4 separate regions of the Homo sapiens genome follow, and regions 2, 3 and 4 are each reported to be linked to region 1. Evidence: microRNA targets listed by miRTarBase, many of them from high-throughput screens and not tested one by one. Region 1 holds a microRNA gene; each other region holds the end of a gene's coding sequence. Distances are from middle to middle.

Region 1 (6,484 bases):
TTGGAATGATTTGCTCAAGAAGAGTGTAGATGCTCTATAAATATTTGTTGTGTGAATAATTGACTGAAGTAAGCTACTATTTAAAACCTTTTCTCTGCCCTCTGGCTTGTTTTCTACAACTTATAAATGTCTTTGACTTTCTCTGGTCACAAAACCAAGTCTTTTAGACCTTTGCCTGCTTCAACTATGCCATCTTTATTTTCTTCTCCACTAAATTCCTTGAAAAAATATCCTGCCCAGATTCCTGAACCTCATATTGTTTCAGTTATTCCTCATCTCACCGTAGTCTGATTTATGTTCACATCATTTCATAGAAGCTGCTGCAGCAGGGGTCACCAGTGACTTCATAAGTGACAAAGTCAAAGGGCCTTGTTTAATCTGATTTTATTTTTTCTCTTACTAGAGTTCAGCCCTGCAGACCATTCCTTTAGGTGATCCTTTCCTCTCTCTTGAGCTCCAGGCTCTTTGGCTAATGTTCATGTTGTTTCTTTTTTCTGGTGTGACTTTCCTCCTGTCTTTCCTTTCTTGGTTAACTCCTACTCTCCTTGTAGACTCTGCTTAGATGTTATAATTTCTTGAAAGTTTTCTCTCACGTTCTTGGGCTGTGTGCAGTGCCCCTTTTTGTGGTCCCGTTGCTTTCGAGCATATGTCTGTCACTGAGCTGGCCACACTATACTGAAATGATACATTTATGTCTAGAAGAGGGTATCATCTCGAAGAGGATAAAAGCCAGTTTCACAGCACAGTGCATAGCACACACTACACAATTAATAAATACTTGTGGAACTAAATTATACTCTACTCCTCGTTTTCTTTCTTCCATCCTGACAGCTTGTTCTTCTTTTCTTCTCTTTGTTTCTTTCACTTTGGTCCTTAACATTAGAGTTTAGCAGGATCATAGTCTTTGCTCTATTTTCTTATTCTGCTTACGTTTCCTGGATAATCTCCAAGCAGTTTATATTTGAGGATCATTAATTAAATCATGGCTTCTAAATCCCCTTTTTATATCTGCCTTTCCTGCTGAGTACTAACCTATTGTTAGACATCTCTGAATAGTCTGTGCACATCTTATGCCCAAGATGACATGAACTGAGTTCTGTATCTCCACCCCACCCTGCAAACCATATTTCCTTCAGTGCACTCTGTGTTTCTGTTAATGTTACCTCCATTCATGCAGTAATGCAAACTGAGAATCTGCAAGTGATTCTTAAGTTCATTTTCCTTGCATCTCACACTCTGCTGGTCATTACAGTTTGTTGAATCTACTTATTCAGTACTTATCAAAAGTGTCCTCTTTTTTCCATGCCTCTTGACATGTATTCAGGGCTGATATTCAGCTCATGCACAAATATGTCATGTTGACTTATGTCCATTCTATGTTTTGGCTTCTGATATGATGTGTGCCTATACATTCCAGTTACATATTTCAGGTTATCATTAGATACACTTCTCTCTTAATATTGATAAAACAACAGACAGAAAGTCAGTGAAGATGTAGAAAAACTTGACATCATCAACCAACAAGATTTAATTGACATTCATAGAAAACTATTCTCGACAGCAGCAGAATACACATTCTTTTTAAATGCCCACAGAATAATTACCAAGATAAACGAAAACCTGGGCCACGAAACAAACTTCAACTAATTTAAAAATATTTGAAGTCATGCAAAGTCTATTTTAAGACCACAGTATTTTCAAACTAAAAATTAAAAAGAGTTAACAGGAAAATCCCCAAACAATTGGAATCTAATCAATATACTTCTAAATAAATAATCCATAGGTCAAATAGGAAATATCCAGGAAAACACACACACACACACACACACCCCACACACACACACACACACACGTCTCTGGGTGTATATATCTCAAACTGATTGAAAAAGAAAGTACATCATATAAAATTTTGGAGGACACAACTAAGGCAGTTCTGAGAGGGAAATTTATAGCACTAAATGGATATACTAGAAAAGAGGAAAACTCTCAAATCAAGAATATAAGCTCCTATCTCAAGATCCTAGGAAAAGAGGAACAAAATATACCTAAAACCAGGAAGGAATAATAAAGGTAAAAGCAGGAATCAATAACATTGAAAACATAAAAACATAGAAAATTAATGAAAAAGAACTATTTCTTTGAAAAGATAAATGAAATGGACAAACCTCTACAAGCCTAGCAAAGAAAAGAGACAGAAGACACAAATTACCAGTACCACATGTGAAACAGTAGATATCACTAAAGACGCTGCAGACATCAAAAGTGTAATAGGGGAATACTATGAGAAATTCAACACACATAAATTTGACAACTTAGATGAAGATGAAATAGACTAATTCCTCAAAAACCATAAACTCACCAAATGAGAAATAAATTACTAGAATAGCCTTATTACTATTAAGAAAATCCAATATGTAATTAAATAGACTCCCAACAAGAAATCTCCAGACACAGATGGTTTTACTGGAAAATTCTACCAATGTTTAAAATAGAAGAGGAGGCAGGTGGCTGGTATTTCTGTATTCCATGTGCCATCTACTAATGTTTAAGGGAGAATCAATACCATTTCTTCACAGTCTCTTTCAGAAAATAGAAGAGGAGGGAACACTCTCCTTATCATTTAATGAAGCTTGTATTGCCCTAATAAAAAGTCAACGACAAAAAAAAATACTACAAACTAATGTCCTTCATAAACATATAGATACAAGAATTCTTGACAAAATATTAGCAAATATTTTGAATTCAACAATTCAGCAATCTATAAAATGAATTATACACTGTGACCAAGTGGAATTTATTCCAGAGGTACAAGGCTGCTTCAATATCTGAAAATTAATCAAGGTAATCTACCATATTAATAGGCTACAGAAAAATTATATAATCATATTAATTGATGTAGAAAAAGTTGTTTAATAAATTCAACATTCATTCATAATGAAGAGCTATCAGAAAACTAGTAATTGAAAGGAACTTCCTCAACCTGACAAAAGATCACCTATGAAAAAACCTGCTGCTAATATCATACCTAATCATAAAAGCCTGATTGTTTCTCCTCTGTTGTTCAGGAACAAGGCAAGTATTTCCACTCTCACCCTCTATTCAACATATCTGTGGAAGTTCTAGCTCATTTAATAAAGAAGTATAGGGAAGCTGGGCGCGGTGGCTCACGCCTGTAATCCCAGCACTTTGGGAGGTCAAGGCGGGCAGATCATGAGGTCAGGAGTTCAAGGTCAGCCTGACCAATATGGTGAAACCCCATCTCTACTAAAAATACAAAAATTAGCCAGGCATGGTGGTGCGCACCTATAGTCCCAGCTACTCGGGAGGCTGAGGCAAGAGAATCGCTTGAACCCAGGAGGTGGAAGTTGCAGTGAGCCAAGATCGCAACACTGCACTCCAGCCTGGGCAACAGAGCAAGACTCCCTCTCAAAAAATAAATAAATAAATATAAACAGAAATATAGAGGAAGAAAAGGCATACACACCAGAAGGGTAGAAATAAAATTGTCTTTATTTGCAGATGGCATGATTATTTGCATAAATGATTACAGAATACACACACACACACACACACACACACACACACACACACAAATCCCATAACTAATAAGTGAGTTCAACCCAGTCTCAGGATACAAGATTAACATACAAATATTCATTGTGTCTCTATAAATCAGCAATGGCCACATATGGCCATAAAGGGCATCACGAAGGATCCTTGTAGAGATGAACTGGTTTGTATCTTGACTGTATCAATATTCTGATTGTGATAACATATTGTAGTTTTGCAGTTTTTACACCTGGGGAAAACTGGTTAAAGGGTATATCTCTGTATTACTTCTTACAACTGCATGTAAATCTGCTTATTTTCCTGATAATTACCACATTTTCAAACAAATTCATAAAACTACCTCATTAAAACAAACAACAACAAAAATCTCTAATCCCTTATCTCCTGACAGCTACAACATTCTCTCTTTAAGGCCTTGTCTACACTCAACAGCTTCAACAGCAATTGGAGAAGATTGCAGAGTAAGTTCCTGATTAAGAAATGGAATTTACTCTGCAATCTTCTCCAATTGCTGTCACCATCATTCCATAGCTACAGCTTTTCCTAACATCCCCAGTCATCTCTACTTGCCAAAGTCAATGGGCATTTTCAGTCTTCACTGTGCTTGACTCCTCAGCATTTGAAAGTGTTGGCCATTTGCTCGATCCTAATCATTCTCTTTCCTTCCAAGGTACAACGTGCTCCTGTCTAATGTACCACATGCTCCTGTTTCCCTGCAGTTATTCTTATGCTCATTCCTGTCCCAGGAACATTGCCTGAAATATATGCTACTTGTCTGTTAGATTTCAGCTGGTGTCACTTCCTCAGGGAAGCCCTCCTTGACCTCCCTGATTAGGTCAAATCCCTTTATCATGGTCTTTTAGCACATTGCATTTTCCCTTGGTGGTTTGTATAAAACTTGCAGATTCATATTAGTCTTTAGGCTCCTTTGATGTGTTCGTTTGCCCTTCTTTCCTCTAACTGTACTAAGGAAGGAGTCATCTGAGTTTGTGTCCACCGTCAATTCTCAGCTCCTTGCCTTAATGACACATATTCAGTATTTAATACATATTTGTTAAATAAATGCCTGAATGACAATATCAGAAGAAAACTTGATTTATACGTAAAGATTTTTTCTATCAATGAGTAAGAGTAATTTAAATTTTCTTTTTTTTACAACAGGACTGCATGAGCAACTTATATAAGTCAGGTTATATGTTTTATAGACAGAGATTTACTTTTATCAGTGGAATTGGACATATTTAAATACAGAACACCTGTATTTAAGTAGTTTATTTTCTGAGAGGGAAATTTATAGCACTAAATAGATAGATTAGAAAAGAGGAAAACACTCAAATCAAGAATATAAGCTCCTATCTCAAGAACCTAGGAAAAAAGGAACAAAATATGCCCAAAACCAGGAAAGAATAATAAAGTTACCAAATAATAAAGGAATAAGTCAGGATATATGTTTTATAGACAGAGATTTACTTTTATCAATGGAATTGGACATATTTAAATACAAAACACCTGGCCAGCTCAGTCAGTGCAGTATGAGATGTTTAAAGTATGCAATTCTTGAAGGAAAATTGGATTGACCAGTTAAAATATGGAAACCAATTCTGAATAATTTAGTCTTTACTTTTGAGAGGAAAAAATTGAATGGTACTTCTTTAGAAATCTACTTCATTAATAGAGCAGTGATTCCAATAGATCTAACCCTAACCGTGTATGAACAAGAACAGATATTTGGTAGGATGGTTTTGCCAAAGAGAAGGGATAAAACACAAGCAATCTTTTCACATAGGAATGCAATGTACAAACAAATTTAGCTAACAGCCTAGTGTGTATGCGCATTCACATGTGTGTGATGGCAAATGGTGATTATACAGAGATATGCTCCCTTGCCTCTCTCTTCTTTCTAGTATTTCTTCCCTTTACCAGACTGTCATCTGCAGAATCAAAATCCAACACATTTCTCTAAGGCAAATAAATCTTTCCGTGTCCTGCCTTTCTCCTTATCTTTGCTGTCTACCAATGTGCAAAAGTGTGTGTTGTACACATATTTCAATTTCATGATACAGTAAGCCCAGGCTTCCACAATGACAGTGGTGTGGTTAAGCAAGAAATGAGATTACTGTTCCTTGGCTAGAGTATTACGTAGGTCTAAAATGGAATGTTAGTAGTTACTGTTTCTCCTTAAATCCGGCTTTAGAGTAAGCCATAAACTGGTTGGTATAATTGGTCTTGATATAGCAGTTGTCATTTTTATGTAATAACAGTCTTCTTTTCCAGTCAAGGGATATAAGTTTGCTCTCATTTTACATTTGTTTGTATTTCACATATGGTATACATCACAGCAACAAGCCTTTTCAATAAATTCTTCAGTATGTTTACTAGATTAGCAAGGGCAGATGGCTATTTGTTAATAATTCAACAATTAACTTTGAAGGTATATGCCATACTCTGCCTTCTCAGGCAATAAATTGAATTAGAGAAAGGTGAGGATTTAAAATTCTGAATGATGGTACAGGAGTATGGTCGCTGGACTAGAAATACTAACATATGTGTGGTTATCTTGCTCTGCCTTTATGTACCTATATGACTTAAGCAAATTAATTAAACCTCTTTGGTAGTTCATTTTTTAATCATTAAAATGAGAGGGTTGACACACACTGTCTCAATTTTCACTTTTGTGAATCTTCTTCACTTTAATTGGTTTTCTTGAATAAATATATTATTTGGTAACTTATTTTATTTTTTAACTCTGGAATTTATTCCAATTTCTTTTCATAGTTAGGGAATGCTGATTCTTCAAATATATTTACTGAAGAAAACTTTCACTTTAAATTAGTGAATACTTTTAGTGTTTGAGAGGAAGCATACTAGTTAAGGCTGCCATGGTATGATTTCTGACACTTCTGTTTATTAATTG
Region 2 (6,209 bases), not on the chromosome of region 1:
AACTTGAAGGAACCACTGTTGAGCTGAGCAGAAGCTTACAGATACACCCTAGGGGAGTATGTGGCTTGGATGGGGCTCCTGGAGACAGCGAGCCACCAGGAACCACAGAAGGAAGGTGGGGTGAAGTTGAGTCAGCAGTCTGGCCAGACCAGTTGATGGAAGAAAGACCTGAACTGGATTCAAGAGACAAACTTTCATTGCCTCAGGTTAAAGATGGTCTCAAAGGTTGACATTAGAAAATGTAAAAAGGTGAAGCCAGGCATGGTGGCAGGTGCCTGTAATCCCAGTTACTTGGGAGGCTGATGTGGAAGGACTGCTTAAGGCCAGGAGTTCAATGCTGCAGTGCACTATGTTCTCACCTGTGAACAGCCACTGCACTCCAGCCTGGGCAACATAGTGAGACCCTGTCTCAAAAATTTTTTTAAAAAGAGTAATTGTAGGAAGGTGAATGAATGGATGTCCACTTTCCATTGACCTACTTGATTAAATGAATAATCTACATTTAAAAAGCCACTTAATCACCACCAGGGCCATTAAGACATATGAAAATCTCAACAGTTGAAAGAGGTCTATGGTGCATATGATAAATTTGGAAGTGGAAATTGGTGAATGATCCTCTAAAAACGAATGGGGTCTTCCTTGTACATACACATGTGGAGGTAAGGATCTGACAGCTCGGAGGTTGCAAACTGGAGACCACTGCTGTCACATATATTTTGTTTAACTTGAACAATGTTTTAAAATAAGATTTCACCTGAATTTCTGGTTTTTCTCAAATATTAAAAAGATGGAGCCACACATTCTTCCATAGCAACAGTATGCCTGCATCAAGTACCCACTGTCTCCTGCGGCTATTTAGTGGGGTAGGGGACTTCAGAAAAGGTTGCTAAAACCAAGAAACTACTTTTTAGGGGTTTCAGGCTATTTGCCACTCCCTCCTTGAAATGCTTTCTTGGTTTTTATACACTGCTTCAGCCTTGTTTTCCTCCCACTTCTCCAACTGCTCTTTTTCATTCCCTTCTACAAAAGTCCTTCCTCCTCTGCTGTCCCCAGATTCTAGGAATCTCAGGGCTCTATTTTAGATCTTCTCTCTTCCCTATTCCACACAGTTTTCTTGGTAAACCTCATCTCTCAAGGTTTTGAGTCCCAGCCAAATGCTGCTTATGTCCATGGTAGGTGTGCAGTACATATGGGATTGGTTGAATCGTGCAGAAACATGAGATAGGAGGATTCTGGGGTGATTTTGTTTTGTTTTTGAGACAGGGTCTCCTCTGTTGCCCAGGCTGGTCTCAAAGTTCTGGGCACAAGCGATCCTCCCAACCTCAGCTTCTTGAGGAGGAGATGCGATTATAGGTGTGCACCACTATGCCCCACCTCGTGTGTATTTTTCATGTTCTCTTCTTTCGCTGACCTAAACTACTTATTTTTAAAAGCATAATGCTTATTTTGGAAACTTATGAAAATACTGACATATACAAATAAGGAAATAGCAATTGCCTACAATCCAAGATAACCACTGTTAGTATTTTGGCTATTTAACTCACTCCATGATTTCCACCACTCTCTATCCCCTCACCATAATTTTTTCTTCATAAACTCATTGTCCTTTTTACTTACTACTTTATTTTCTATCTTCTTTACCACATTTTGTCCATCTGTCCACTACAACCCCAGGTCCTATAATAGTGCCTGGCATACAGAAGGCATGCACGCCCTTAATCTTTGTTGAATAAATGAGTCAATGTCATTATATATATGTGTGTGTATATATATATAATGTGTATGTATATATGTGTATGGAGAGAGTGAGCAAGCGCTGGATCATAATTTATACACAATTCTAGAGTTTTATTCACTTAGCATTACCTTTGTGCATGCTACTGACTTGTTGAAAAACTTTCAGTGATTTCTTAGAACAAAATCCTTACTTTAGCCCACAAGCTTGGGTTTCTACAGCCTAAAATGTCCCCAGAATTCAATCCCCGGAGGATAAAATGAGTTTAAAAAAAAAAGGAAAACAGAGTGATAAACATCAAGACATAAAAGTATGAGGATATGCACAGTGATTCTAAAAATTCAAATTAAAACTAAACTGGAATATTTACATATTTTATTAAATCTTTACAATCAGTAATTATAATCAAATACATAATTATATACAGGATTATATACATTTTGCCCAGACTTTTACATCACAGTACATAGTTTCCCTTAGAAATATTGTATACATTTATCACCAAACAATAAAATCCAACAACAGTAGTGTTACAGCACCTGTTAGTACAGACATCTTTTTCATAAATTACATCATAAGAAAATATACGGCTGTAAATTGGGCTTTTAAAAATGTCTTTTATAAAATCTGAACATACAATATTTCATTCACAGAATGTTTTTTTTTTCTATGTTCTGACTGAAGCCTTGTGCATAAAACGACCGGCTGGAATATTTACTAAATTCTACCCCCCTCTAAAATTATAAGCAGTATTTGAATTACTTATGCTGAGCTTTCTTCATGATGAATTTGGCATGGGGTTTGGTGAGAGAACAAATGTTGGCTTTACTATAAAAAAGGTTGTGTGATGGTAATTTAAATTTTAAAAGCTTCTTGAGAGAGTAATTACATTAGTGAAGTTAAAATCAGAAAGTGTACAATTTTTCTTTTTACTAATACTGTAAAGAAAAAGGGAGACGTATAATGCCAAGAGTTAATTTGTTCTGAAACAATTATACTCTTTTTGGAAGCCTATTGCAATTTAAGAAGAAAAAAGAAAACTTGCCTAACAAAATATCCCATACCAAACATATCTAGTAAATTACAATTCTTTCACACTTAAAACTTTATGGGAAAAGTATTGCAAATAAGGGCATATCATTTCAATGAACTTTTATATGCAGAAAAAAACTAGCTATTTTATTTTTAGTAGGTAAACAGGTTAAGTTTTAAAACTTGAAAATACCTGAATTAAATACTTGCTCTAATATCTCTTAAAGGATTTCAGCTAAAATCCTTGATTCCAGATTTGTAAACATTATATAAATCTTTCTTAAACAATTTTATGGCTGTGGTGATCACTTCAGCTATATTTCTAAGCAGTCAACATTTAACTGAGGTAGACCAGATGTTTCTAAATTCGGGGTTTCATAGAATCCCCTGAATCTTTAGCAAGTTACTAAAATGTCTATAAAAGTTAACTAAAAAACAAAACACTAAAAAAAAAAAAAACAACTAATGCCTTTGGAATTTTTAATGAACTCAAAAACTACTTTGTGGCAGTATGTCAAGTAAGTAAATGAATGTAGAGTTGTAATTACAACGTTGGAGTTTTTTAGACGAACATTATCTCCTCTTTTCTTAACTAGGGAAATATTGAGTATAATTCCTTCTGGGTATTAAGAAAAATTGGTTAAATTTTTTCCTTTTCTTTTTTTAAGGATTTACTTTTCTTAACAAGTGAACAATTTGCTTCTAAGCGTCAATGAAAGGCAACACCTCCCTCTAATGGCCAAAGGAAGAGAGTGGCAGTAAGCTGGCTTTTCCAATGTGTCACACAATCCTTCATGCCATTAAGTTCTCCTTGTTGGAAAAGAAATTAGGTTGTTTTGATAACTTAGAAAAGTTAGTTTTAGACAACAGTGACTTTCAGCTACAAATACAAAATCAAATCCATGTATATAAGGCTTCTGTAATCGATGTCTTAGAGGAACATCTGCTCATTTTCTCCAAGCCCCAGTCCTATAAATCAAGGCAAGTCAAGTAATTAAGCTTCAACTATTTTGGCAGCTTTGCAATTAAAATGAACAAAGCACTATATCTATCCTTCCATATACTGTATATATTATAGTTCTATCTTGTTACACCAAATCTCACATGCAGAGAGACTAAAAATATCCATTTTGGTTTCAGGTATAATTAAAAGCCAATAAGGGTCTTGCATACTATTCTTTTTCCCCTCCCCAAAGTGAATTCTCCATCAGATTTACTACTCCCTGACTCAATTATATTTACCTGGAATATCTGAATGCAGGTATTTATCCTCTCAGAAAAGAATATGTTTACCTGGGATCTAAACATACTGTACACGAATATACATAACTGCAATACAGCACTGCTGTTTTTAACAGCTCCACTTACACCTCATCAGTACCTCACAACCGTGTTTTAGGAAAAAGTTTTGTGTAATGTTATGGTAAAGAGAAGAAAATTATGTCTCTTAAATATTCCTTTAGAACAAATTCAGGCAAGTTTAAAAAATAAATAAAATGAATAAAGCCATGATTTCAACAACAGGGCTGTCTACAAACATCAACAACAAAATTTAAAAATTTTTAAGACTTAAATGTGGCCAGCACCAGACTACTACAACAACAACAAACCAAAAAAAAAAAGGGGGGGGGTGGAAGTCTCATTAAGCTATATAGCTATATGTAGTTGTATTGTACTTTTTTTTTTAAACACAGGTCACCATACACTAATTTTCAAGTCCGTATCAGAAGGAATATCTGTTAAAAACAAAAACAAAAACCATGATTCAACAGAAAATGTGACAGATTCCTTAGGTGCAACTTTAGAAACCTAAGTTTCAAAGGAGAAAAACAGTAGTTACTCCAGGAATTTTAACTCACTAACCACAGTTCTATCATGGCTCTGTAAGACAGAAAAATGGAACAAAATGTATATAGCTGTTGGCGATACGAGCCTTGTGGCTCAAATTGCATACCAAACATGGGATGGAGTAAGGCTGATGGCTAGAGGTAATCACCTCTAAGAGAAATGAACTGGAAATGATTTATAATCTACCCTACAAGGATATAATGCTAGGTTCCATTTCAGAGTAGTCACAGCTTTCCCTATGGAAGGCCCAATGGGAGGTTCATATTGCAACATTACAGTTTCTCCCTTACTCCATTTTTCAGAAGTATTAAGTAAGCAATCTCCACAATGTATTATATGACCTTTTTACCTGGTCCCACTGATTAGTCTTTATGCAGAGAACTCACTGAGAAAGTACACTGGCTTCACCTTTGGTTTAAATAAAAAAGACATTGTTAAGAAGGAAAAAAAATCAAGTCATCTTGATCATTTGTCACTAAATGAAACAAGAGAAAGCAATGAGCAAAGACTGTTTTCACCATAAATGCATTTGCTTCATAACCACTTAGGTCACTTAGAGTGTTTTGTGAAGGCAGCATAATCAGAATGCCACAATACTCGGATGCATCTTCCCAAAAGAGCCTCTAACCCCCAAAACCAAGAAAGGCGAGCTTCCTTTAATTAGAAGGCTATCCAAACTCCTATTCCCCACTCCACTACTAAATGAATTTTGTTTCTTGTCTATCCAGAGACAACAGAAATCTGGTTCGCAGGAATGCTCAGTAATCTTTCCCTGGCCTGAGGTGTTGCAGGGTGGTGCAGTGCTGCATTTGAAGGGGGAACTGTGGATTTCCATTTTTGATGGGACAGTTTTAAACAAGGTCAATTCTAACACAGCATGCTCCAGATTCCTACGATAACTACGCCAGTCAGAACGTGGTTGTTCATCACCATACTTAAAGCCTCCCATTAGAAAGCCTGCTTAGTATTAGGATGTCTATTAACCACACACAGTTTACCTTTTCTTTTTAAATACCTACCAACAGATTGTTTAGCAAGTCATAGCTCATCCTTCTCCATCATTTCAAATGCTTCTATATCTTCATTCCAGTCTGCTAATATGGAGTCTATAGGCTGGACCTTTTTACCCCAGCTAACATTAGGATTGGAATCTTCCTCAGTTTCTGATTGTTCTTGAAGCTGGTTATCTAAATCTGTACATTCACCATTAAGATTTGTAGTCTCATGGTTTTCTGTGGGATTAGAAGTCTGTTCAGAAGGGGAAATGCTTGCAGCATTGTCCATATCTGCTAGAGATAATGATTCTGGGTGAGAATTTAGAGAATTTTCCTCAGAAGACTCTTGATCAACCAAATCAACCTCCTGAGAACTTGATGAAATCTGTTCACCACTCTGATTCTGAGAATCATTTTCAGAGGATGGTTGTTCTTCATTTTCCATTTCAGGATCTGTATGAGAAAGAAACAAACCTCATGCTACTTCTCTAAAAAAATGTACTATTACACTTTCCAAAGCATATTGGTTTTTGCAACAAGATGAAATAAAACGTGAAAGAGACTCATGTTAATGCAGAAAGGTGAGCATCAGCACTGAA
Region 3 (6,484 bases), not on the chromosome of region 1:
TAGAAGACACACAGAGTTAAACTTTACCTTGCATGTATATACAGAAAATGGAAATAGAAAAATTGCTAAAAAAAAATGCTAGAGAACTTGAACAACAGAAAATCATTATATTGGCTATATAGAAATGTAAAAGCATGTGAAATCCTACATAAAACCTAGCGTAGCAGATCTTGATGATATATAGTCGACCCTTGAACAACACAGGTTTGAACTGCATGGGTCCACTTATACATGGATTTTTTTTAAATAAATATATTGGAAATCTTTTTGGATATTTGCATCAATTTGAAGAAACTTGCAGACAAACTGCATGACCTAGAAATATATATATATATAAAAAGAAAGTATGTCATGAATGCATAAAATATATGTAGATGCTAGTCTATTTTTATCATTTACTACCATAAAACATACACAAATCTATTGTAAAACGTTAGTATTTATCCAAATTTGTGCACACAGACCATATGTGGCACCATTCAAAATCAAAAGAAACGTAAATGTAAAGATGCGGTATTAAAACTTAACTGCATAAAATTAACTATAATACATACTGTATCATTGTAATCATTTCATGGCCACCTCCTGTTGCTATTGCAGTGAGTTCAAATGTTTCGAGTATCCTCTTAAAACACCATGTGTTGCTAAACATCTCTGAGGAGTTCATCTCCAGTAAATTGCACATCACAGCAAAAAGTGATCTCTCACAGTTCTCCTGTATTTTTTGTCATGTTTGGTGCAATACCAAAAACCTTGAATAACACCATAGGACTCAAAGGAAGTGCCACTAGTGAGGCCGGAAGTCTCACAAGCAGAGAGAAGCCATGACATTACAAGAAAAAGTTGAATTGCTTGATATATAGATTCAGGTCTGCAGCTGCAGTTGCCAGCCATTTCAGACAGATAATTCATCTTATAAACAGATGATGTAAACTTTGGGTATTAGTAAATACAGTACAGTACTGTAAATGTGTTTTCTCTTCCTTATGATTTTAATATTTTTTCTCTATTTTATTGTAAAAATACAGTTTATTTATTTATTTATTTGAGCTGGAGTCTTGCTCTATCACCCAGGATGGAGTGCAGTGGTGCAATCTCTGCTCACTGCAAGCTCTGCCTCCCAGGTTCACACCATTCTCCTGCCTCAGCCTCCTGAGTAGCGGGGACTACAGGCGCCCGCCACCACGCCCGGCTAATTCTGTATATTTAGTAGAGACGGGGTTTTGCCGTGTTAGCCAGGATGGTCTCGATCTCCTGACCTCATGATGTGCCTGCCTCCGCCTCCCACAGTGCTGGGATTACAGGCGTGAGCCACCACGCCCAGCCAAAATACAGTATATAATACATTTACAAAATATGTGCTAATCAATTATTTTTATCTTTTTAAAAATAGAGATGGGGTCTCGCTATGTTGCCCAGGCTCAAACTCCTGGTCTCAAGTGGTCCTCCTGCCTTGGCCTCCTAAAATGCTGGAATTACAGGTGTGAGCCACCATGCCCCAACCAGAATACAGTATATAATACATATAACATATAAAATATGTTAATCAACAATTTCTATTATCAGTAAGGCTTCCAGTTAATGGTAGGCTATTAGTAGTTAAGTTTTTGGGAATCAGGTTACATGTAGGTTTTCATTGTGTGGGGGTTGGCACCCCAACACCCGTATTAAGGGTCAACTGTATATGGAAATATAGCCTGAAATCTGTAATGAATTACACTTATTTGAAAATTGCTTTTGGCTGGAAGTATTTCAGGTAAGTTTCTACTTCAACTTTAGTGTCATTGTTTACATATTCAGGATATATTTTATAGGTGGATGATACTTGACATAAAAAATGATGTGTCAGTGACTGTGTATTCTTGTTAACAGCTCCAGGTCCAGTTCCTGTTCCAGGTCCCAAAAGCCATCCTTCTGCATCCTCGGGCAAACTGCTGCTTCCACAGTTTGGGATGGTCATCATTTTAATCAGTGTTTCTGCTATAAATCTCTTTGTTGCTCTGTAGTTTGATGCATTGTTTATCTTTCTTATTCTTTACTTGAAATAACTATAGGGATCCACAGGAGATCAAAAGGAATGATGTATTTTTTACGTGTTGGCCAAAGTCACTGGATAAAATGAGAATTGTATATTTGTTATTCATTTTGCAAATTCAGAAAGTTGGTCCAGATATATGTCACAGAACTTTTCACTTGTATACTACTCTTACAATGGAAAAAAATCCCGAAAACTGTATACTTCTGATTAAATTCAATAAAAGATTTTGATTAGATATTTCAGAATTGCCAGTATGCTCAATACTGTTAGTGTTTAACATCAATTTAATATCTGAATTAGAACTTTAAGGATAGTCTACTCATCTCTTTGTCTTAGTCTGTTTGGGTTGCTGTAACAGACCACTGTAGACTAGGTAACTTGTAAGCAACATTTATTTATTTCTCACAGTTCCAGAGGCTGGGAAGTCCAAGATCAAGGTGCCAGCAGACTTAGTTTCTGGTGAGTGTCCTCTTCCTTGTCCTTTCCTCACCATCTCACATGGCAGAAGGGACAAGAGAGATAGAGCACTAATCCCATTCATGAAGGCTCCACCCTCATCATGACCTCCCAAAAGCCATACCTCCTAAAATCACCATATTGAGTGTTAGGATTTCAAGATGAATTTTTTGAGAACACAAACTACTCAGTCTATAACACTTGCTTCGATAACTGAGTCTAGTTATCTCACCAGTTATATGCTCAAGGACCACAGGCCTGCCTTATATATGCAGTCACCAGTGGGACAGAAACCCAACAGGATGACTGGGCCTGCCTTTTTAAAAGGCTGACCTTAGGCCCTGTCTGGTATATTTATCTGGTTGAACTAGCAACCAGCAATATTAGAACATGAAAAATCAAAGGCTAGAGAAGCGACCATGGTATGCATGATGAGTGATCCATCCACTAGATTATATAGCTCAGTGAGTAACAATTCTCATCAATTAGACCAACAACTCTTCCTACTATAAGGGGGTGTGCAGAGGGACAAAAACTCCTATACTTGGCTACATGGGTAAGAATGATGGACATGCAGATCTTCTGGGCCACGGAGAAAATGTGGACAAGGCAAGAAATTCCTGTCCCAACACTGTTGGTATTGCAATATAATGGGTAGGAAAGAATGATGAGAGGGTAGTAGAGTAGTGTAACAAATTTACACACCATAAACTTGGCAAAAGTAGCTGCATACTTCTGGCAGTCAATTTGGAAAGAAACAATCAGTTTTAAAGTTCCTAGTCTTGGCCAGGCATGGAGGTTCAGGCCTGTAATCCTAGCACTTTGGCAGGCCAAGGTAGGAGGATTGCTGGAGTCTAGGAGTTCAAGACCAGCCTGGGCAACATAACAAGACCCCATCTCTACACAAAATAAAAAATAATAGCCAGTTGTGGTGGTGCATGCCTGTAGTCCCAGCTACTCAAGAGTCTGAGGTGGGAGGACTGCTTAAACCCAGGAGGTCAAGGCTGCAGTGAGTCGTGATTGTGCCACTGTACCCCAGCCTGGGTGACAGAGAGACTTGTCTCAAAAAAAAAAAAAAAAAAAAAAACCCACAAAAAATCCTAGTCTACACAACTGTAACCTATACAACTGAGGAGAAATCTCTTCAGTGGATTCTCAGAGGATGGACTCCAGATAGATATACAGTGCATCACACTCTTCACCATCCCCATAGTAAATACAATAGCAAGATTCATGGGCCTGTTTCTTCTAACACCTGTCAATACAAGCCAAAGCATCACAGAGAAGTGCAAAGTTAAAGCATCTCAAAAGCGGCCAACATGATGCAGCCCAAATATAGTGTAGTCAGAAATACTGTTTAAAATGATCCACTGGTTAAAGACCCACTATTTAACACTACTTAATCTGTTTAACTCAGATTTTCTAGTATTTCGAATACTAATGACATATTAGGGAATTCTTAATACTAGATGATATCTGAAGTAAGTTTTACTTGCCATACCCTAATCAAAATATAACAGCACTGACAAAAATCCCTAGGAGGCAAAAATAAGACTTAAGACTAAAATTCCTGACTTGTGATTATGAATTTAGTACCTATGTGGACAAAAAATGGTCATTCCTCAAAAGCCAAATAAAGCACCAGACAGAATTATATAAAAGTAATTACAAATTAAGAATTTATTTATAAGTTTTCATCTTTTTAGAAATAAAAAGGCTTAAAAAACAAAATGGTTGCAAAAATGGTTAAGTAGTTTTGTTATATCCTAATTGCTTAGGTGTGCTCTGTAAATTCCAAATAAGTAAAATAATATAAAAATACATTTTCATATCTTTATAGAACAAAAACAAAACATTAAATGCTTTTGGATTTTCTTTACTCCTCCCACAGATGAGTTCACAAATACAAAAACTGGTGTACATTTATACTCAAGTACAAATCTCCAACAGCCAAGTAATTATAGTTTGTTCTGTTATGTGCAAAGTAGATTATTTCATATTTACTTGGTATGGAAAGCAGAGTACAGGCTCAATGGACAATAATCATTAAACACAGATTATGTTTAAGAAAATGCTGTTGTAAAAATGTACAATAGTACATACAATTTTGGTAATTATGCACTTCTTTTAAAGTAAATACAGCTTTTAGATATAAATCTTTCAAAGGTTTTCTTTGAAGAGCTGTGAGGTGACTATTTCAGATTTGATGAACAGTAATTTGTCAGTAAACTTCTCAAAAAACCAATCCAAGAAAGAATTGTTTTCTTTTTCCCTCCATGTGGTCGGTTTCATTCTTAAGGAAGGTCTGATGCAGTAAGAAGATGCATTTCACAAACCTTTACACAAGTTTGTGAACTGTCAACTAAAGACACCACCTCTGATGTGGATGGTTTCATTCAATCCATGTTCGACCAGCTTTATATCTTCTAGATCGTCTTTAATGATGCTAATCAAATGGCTAAGGCCTTCCTGTTGTTGTTTCAAATGCTAGAACAAATTAAGAAACAACATATTAATGTATTAATTTCTTAAAACTGCAAGCTAGTCACAGGAAAAAAGACTCCACTTTGACTATTTTACTAGCAACACAGTACCTAGTAAGTGCTCTAAATATAGAGGGCATGCATATTTAAACATTTGTACTACATCTTTTGCTAACAGTGAAAGACAAACTCTAAAGAACAATAAAATCAAACAAATATATAATGAACAATATCTTCCAACAAAAATGTTTTTTAGATAGCTATTCCTTTTACCAACTTTTGATAAAGGCATGATAATAAAACAGAACTCAAAGGAGGTATTCAAATATAGATGACTAGCAAAATAACATTCTGAAAACTGAGAATATTCATGTTTTGAAGTACAAAGTACATAGTGATAATGGTGGTGATGACTACAGATGCTAACATTTTTTTAAGACTCCTCCTCATGGGTTAAGGTGCTGTTTTAACAGTACTGGTATTCACTCACTTAACTCATTTAAAATCCTTTTGAGCCCCCTTTGGGGTACCATTATCATCTCGACAGTTAAAGAAACTACAGGTAAATAACCTGCCCAAGGTCATAAAGTAGATGGTGAACCATGATTCAATCCCAAAACAATACACTGCTCATAATTTTAAAAAAGACAGGTGTTTAAATTATTCCCAGTTTTATTGCATATATCAACTCTATTTAATACAACTATTTATTTCAATATACTGGAACCTGTTAATTTATTGCAAATACTTAAAACAATGGAATATAATTGGTTATGTGTGTAATATCCAAGAACCTGGAAGCCAAAGTAGTTTTTGGTTGCATAAAACCAGCCATATCCATTCTAACATAATAAAATTGGATTTGTTGATGACATTTATAATCTTTATCTAAAATCCTCAGGGCCATGCCAACAGTCATTAGCTACCTAGTATGTTCCACAAAGTTCATCATCTTCATATATTTTCTTTAGATACAACTGTTCATTTTCATTAAACCAATCTGCATTTATACTAATGAAAATAAGCCAAAGCAGTGTTTCCCAACTTTTTCACACAATGTGAAAACCCTAGAAAAGTGGTTGGAGGTTCTGGCCACCTCAACCTACCTCCATCCAGATCTCCTGAGAGCTTAGGGGACAGATCAATAACCAAATGTTTATAACTTACATGCGACATATAGGCAGGGAAGGTATTATCTAGAGCAGTTGCTTCTCAAACTTTAAAGTGCATACAAATCATTCTATGATCTTGATAAAATGCAGATTGAGTACGTCTGGAGTAAGGACTGAAATTTTGCATTTCTAATGACCTTCCAGGTGCGGCTACTACCTACACTTTAAGGAGCAAGGTCTAGGAAACTTTAGTGTCTCTACTACCTCTAAATTCATCTTTTTGGCGAGGAGAGGGATAATTCACTTTTTTAAACAGTGGCAAAACAGGCATACCATAAAATTTTGCCTGTAACTATTTTTAAGTATACAGTTCAGTGGCATTAGGTACATTTATG
Region 4 (5,000 bases), 60 Mb from region 1:
GCCTCAAAACTTTAGGAGTAGCTTCTGGTTTCCCCAGCGGCCTCCCTTTTTTGTGAAGAAGGGCAGCCAATCTGGAGGCATGGTCTTTCTTTTATCTATGATCCCTCTCTCCGTTGACAAGCTACTGGGTACAGTAAAGTCCTAAGGAATGTGAAGTAGAAAGGTGGACTTCAGCGGGGGCCAGATCATTAGATTTAACTTTACGGCTGATAGAGGCTGATTTCAATATATTAGAAGTGATCAGGCCGGGCATGGTGGCTCAAGCCTGTAATCCCAGCACTTTGGGAGGCCGAGGTGGGCAGATCACGAGGTCAGGAGTTCGGGACCAGCCTGGCTAACATGGCAAAACCCCATCTCTACTAGAAATACAAAAATTAGCCAGGTGTGGTGGCGGGTGCCTGTAATCCCAGCTACTCAGGAGGCTGAGGCGGGAGAATCACTTGAACCCAGAAGGTGAAGGCTGCAGTGAGCCAAGATCATGCCACTGCACTCCAGCCTGGGTGACAAGAGCAAGTCTCAAAAAACAAAAACGAACAAACAAAAAAAAGAAGTGATCAGTGGGGCCAGCACCAGAAGAGCTGGAAGAATGAACTTTCACTCATTAAACCACTTACTGGGCACCCACTAAATGCCAGGAACTGGAGATACAAATCAAAGAGGAGATTTCGAACCTCAAGAATCTTTTCCATAACCAAATCAATACAAAGCAAGTGGAAAGTTGTATGAGAGGACAGGGAAGGAGCAACTGTTTGGGCCTAGCTGGTAAGGAAAGATATGACAGCAGTGACATTTTAATCAGGCCTTGAGAATTGAGTAAAGCTAAGGTCATGGAAACGCATGTTAGTCAATGAAGAATTTTGGGCATGCTGCTAGTGTCCAATCTCCTACATGGATACAGGTAACAGAAGAACTGAGGTTGGGGCCTTTTGGCTCAGGTCAAGATTAGAGAAATATGCTGGATATTTAATAACAGATTCAAGACTTCCCGTTTACCCAACAATAGTCTGGATTTGCAGCTTAATTAGTGAATTCAACAAATACTTACTGGGTATGTTAAGTGGTAGACTTGGCCAGTGTTTTTTTTCGGCCTTAATAAAATTTACAGTTAAAACAATGTAGGTGTTGTGGTCTTATTTAGGTGAGAAAAACTTAAGATCCTTTCCATCCTGAGAAAAAATATATAAGCATTTCTCCTCTAATTTCTAAATTCCCTCACCGCTTTTTAAACTTTGCAATTAATGGTAGCAATCATAGCAGCTTTCAGAAAACTACCCCAACTGCCTGTGGCAATACAGATTTGGTGGCAGGCTTCCAGACAACACAAATAGCAGTGACAGTTCTAAATCCCTAGGCCTACATTAAAAACAATTCTCTTCCCCCTGCCACAAAGAAACCAAAAACATACGCTACATTAAGTTGAATACATATACAGACTTGCAAAAGAAATTACATCTCAAAACAAACCTCCCAGAGTTAAAGCTGGTATTATTTTTTTTCCTCCAGACATCTTTTGAAAATGCGAACCAATCACACAGCTTTTCTCCCAGTCAAGAGTTACTAAAACTATTCAACACAGCTGAAGGTTGAATAGTTCTAGTAACTCTTGACTGGGAGAAAAATAAGAGGTTGGGGTGTTTCGACTGCAAATTCTTCTACCACCATTTGTTTGCAGTGTAAGTCAGGACAAGTTATGTGGAAATACGGCTAAGAATTTAAAAGCAATGTTAACATTCTAAGCACTTAATGAGCAGATGGCACATATCTTGTTCTCCTGGGTCTCCCACATTCAACACAGGACTTTTAGTATTCAAGGGGTACTCAGAAAATGTCTATTGAATAACATAATATACAAACTGGGAGTCTGATTTTTAAAAAATAGCATATTGCCCAAGGTAAGTGACTTTATTTTACAGTTTTCAAAATTAAGAACATTTTTGCTTACTTGAAGTCTATTTGTATTCATTAGTACATTTCAACAATTTGGAAATGAAAGATGTGAAGATCATTTGATAAATAGAACACTGCATATAAGGCTAATTTTTTAAAAATGAGGTTATTTTGCAATGCTAAATTAGCTTTTAGAACTTCATAACACAGATATACTTGACCACCAATTAATAGAAAAGTACCCTTTTATTGAGAGGTAAGACAAGTATATTTACAATATTCAATTGTTAGATAATATAATCTGACAGTGGGACTTTTTAAAGCAGCAGTATTTCAGGAATTACAATTTATAAGGGGAAAAGAAAAACATTCCAAATATGTTTCTGTTACAGAAAATACACTTGAACAATGACAGAAACACTTAAGGCTATGTAGTATTAGACCTTTTCCTCCATCTCTATAAAGTACATTTTTGTTACAGACAGAAGGCTGATTTTGGAAAGAAAGAAACAATAGGATGTATAGTGCTTTCTATCAGCAGACTAGTATGTTTAAAAATAGTCTCATCAAGGGTTCTGAATAAGAAATATAAATGTTGCCAGGCAGTCCCAAACTCACATTTGATATTAACTGCAGACTCATTTAAAACTGAAAACTGCTCCAGCCTCTCTCAATCTTTACTAAGGACTGGGAGATTATCAAACCCTTTCAAGTCTAATAATGCTTTTGAATTAAGATTATTGAAAAAAGGAATCTCTGTTACAGTGCAAAGAACATTTTGATAGAAATTCATGTCTACAAAGGAGTTAAATACAGATGTCCCTTACATTAGCAGATACTATTCTTGCTCTAAAAAGGTAGAATTATCAAGACATTGTAAATAATATGGGTCAAAAATATGTGTAACAGAGTTCTACAGGGCACCTTATATAAAGTCAATCCTCAAAGTATGTATTTGACACTCTCCAAGTGAGGATATTACTTTTTTGAAGAACATTAGACACAACAGTAGCCTCTTATTATTCCATTAACTATTGAGGTAGGAGTCTCCATTTGTCAATATCATCCCATTTTCACAGATACATCGTAAGTCAAATGCAAGTACCAAAAATGTCTTAATCCTTAAGACTAAACCATCACACTATACACCAAGTCTTTCCTTATTTAGATGAGCAAGATTGGGAGTTCTCTGTGTATTAAGAGATTTAACTAAAAATAAAATAAGCTGTAATCTATTTTTGTAGACATGTTTGTAAATAAATACCACAGATTTCAATTATACTTTTATGCATTAAAAAGCTTTGCAACTGTTAAAAAAACAAAACAGTGCAATCAGTGGTAAAACAAATAGTACTATGGCTGTTGAAATGTTTCCCTACATCTACCACTAAAGCTGTCACATCTTGTAAAACTAAAGAAAACAGCTATTTCCTACTGTCTAATAATCAGCAACGGTGGAAAAAAAACACTTTTTTTTTAGTGTCATGTTCTTAAGAAACCACAGTCAGTTTATTACAGTGAAATGACTTTAGCACGTGAACTCAGGTATTTTCTAATTAACTCAAGATGAGTGATCATATGAAGGATATGTCATGCTTAATGACTATTATATGCTAGGAAAAAGCTGAAAATAAGGGAAAACTCAGATTAAATGAATAGCCCTTTAAAAATAGCCATAAGTTTAACCTTTTAACATGTTACATGTCTTAAAGTAAACATTATCAAAAGTTATTTTAATTTATGAAAAACAAATAATAAGCCACTGCTAAAATTTAAAAAAAAGAAAGAAGAAAGAAAAATTACATCATGACATGGAAAAAATCCATTTGGTTTGCATCATTTAGTATCTTCAATAATACTATTCAATGAGACAAGCTATGAAACAAACTACTTCATTCATGGTCAAGAATGCTTTTTTGTTAAATACTTACACGTAATGAATGATATAGACAGATACTTAGGAGGGCAGACTCCCAAGAAGTATGAGACTTTCCGGAGTATGCTGCTGACAAAACTTAGCTATAATTTAGTAACTAAAAGTTAGTAAAGAATGACCTTTGCATATTCCAACAAAGAATATCTAGTTCAGATTTTCACCTGGCTTTGAAATATTAAGATTCAGAAGAACCACAAAAGTTTTATTTTAACCATGTTTACAAAAAAAAGTAATCCATACATCAAAATTGGGGTTTCCTTGGTTTTAATACTTTAAAATGACACAATCCAATCGAATTCATGCATCACTTCCAGAGATACAGTGCAACTGGAAATATTTTTGCCATTGCAGTGGACATTTCTAAAAAGCAAATGCCTATGGATGCTCCTGAGCCTTCAAAATAAAAAGAAAAGAAACAGGCACCACAGTTCTCTAAGGATGGCTGAGTTTCGCACATTGTGGAAAAACAACACAAATAGCCTTCAAGAGTTTCTTAAGCATCATTAACATGGATTTCACCTCTCTCAGTTTGCTTGCTGACTTCTTCTTAGTTCACTTGAGTAGAAGCCTGTTTTCACTGCTTCTTTGCTAATTTGCTGCTGGTACTTTGTAGGCTATACGTTTTAAACTCCTGTAAAGAACATTACAAGCTATTTCATGTAATTTAATTTTGTGCTGAATATTCTTCAAATGACTTTATAAATAACACAATATTTTAAATGAGTCTTCAAATTCACTTGTTGTTATACCATATTGTTGCTTTCTCCAACTTTATCTACAAACTGTAAGGAGAAGAAAAACAGAGAATTAAAGAAAGCCCGGAACATTATAAAACATTATATCAATATTTAAAATGTTGATTTTAAAAACCCAGCCTTACAAGAAGAGTTGTGGAAATTTAAGGTATGACTGACAATGACTAATCCAGTACTACTCACCATCATCTTCTGATACATAAACGTGTATAAAATTTTTTTTTCTAAAAGTTGTTTTTTGCATGACATGTTATACATATGAATTTAAGGGTGCAACATGAAAAATGCAACACAATGAATAAAGAAATTGTATAAGATGAAGATAACACTGCTAGCTTAACAAAAAATAAAAAATAAAAACATAAAAAAAACTGAAATGTCAGCCATTCATGCATTAATGAACCCAATAAGATATTTCAACT

What was found. Region 1 holds the annotated microRNA hsa-miR-4699-3p (AAUUUACUCUGCAAUCUUCUCC, at 4,055-4,076, shown strand). A microRNA usually pairs through its seed, bases 2 to 8, with sites in the 3' UTR of a target mRNA and lowers its output. Matches are read on the target gene's strand: a 7mer-m8 pairs with bases 2 to 8, a 7mer-A1 pairs with bases 2 to 7 and ends in A, and an 8mer does both.
Region 2: miRTarBase lists EDEM3 as a target of hsa-miR-4699-3p. Seed matches in the 3' UTR shown: 7mer-A1 at 4,003-4,009, 7mer-m8 at 3,979-3,985, 7mer-m8 at 3,437-3,443, 8mer at 2,447-2,454 and 7mer-A1 at 2,099-2,105.
Region 3: miRTarBase lists NUP54 as a target of hsa-miR-4699-3p. Seed matches in the 3' UTR shown: 8mer at 4,492-4,499.
Region 4: miRTarBase lists GOLT1B as a target of hsa-miR-4699-3p. Seed matches in the 3' UTR shown: 7mer-A1 at 2,156-2,162.

Annotation. Positions count from the first base shown.
Region 1 is chr12:81,154,379-81,160,862 of GRCh38, forward strand. It overlaps MIR4699 (microRNA 4699), which reads left to right and starts at 4,010; the gene lies at 4,010-4,083. The region is part of intron 7 of ACSS3 (acyl-CoA synthetase short chain family member 3); the gene reads left to right.
Region 2 is chr1:184,688,410-184,694,618 of GRCh38, forward strand. EDEM3 (ER degradation enhancing alpha-mannosidase like protein 3) reads right to left here. Exons shown (of 20, transcript NM_025191.4): 20 at 1,828-6,063. The coding sequence ends at 5,654. Among named protein-coding and RNA genes, the nearest start is that of EDEM3, 63 kb to the right of the region's middle.
Region 3 is chr4:76,110,514-76,116,997 of GRCh38, forward strand. It overlaps NUP54 (nucleoporin 54), which reads right to left. Exons shown (of 12, transcript NM_017426.4): 12 at 4,151-4,981. The coding sequence ends at 4,853. It overlaps ART3 (ADP-ribosyltransferase 3 (inactive)), which reads left to right. Exons shown (of 12, transcript NM_001130016.3): 12 at 1,873-2,273. The coding sequence ends at 2,006. Among named protein-coding and RNA genes, the nearest start is that of NUP54, 35 kb to the right of the region's middle.
Region 4 is chr12:21,515,274-21,520,273 of GRCh38, reverse strand. It overlaps GOLT1B (golgi transport 1B), which reads right to left. Exons shown (of 5, transcript NM_016072.5): 5 at 1,866-4,605. The coding sequence ends at 4,567. Among named protein-coding and RNA genes, the nearest start is that of SPX, 8.5 kb to the left of the region's middle.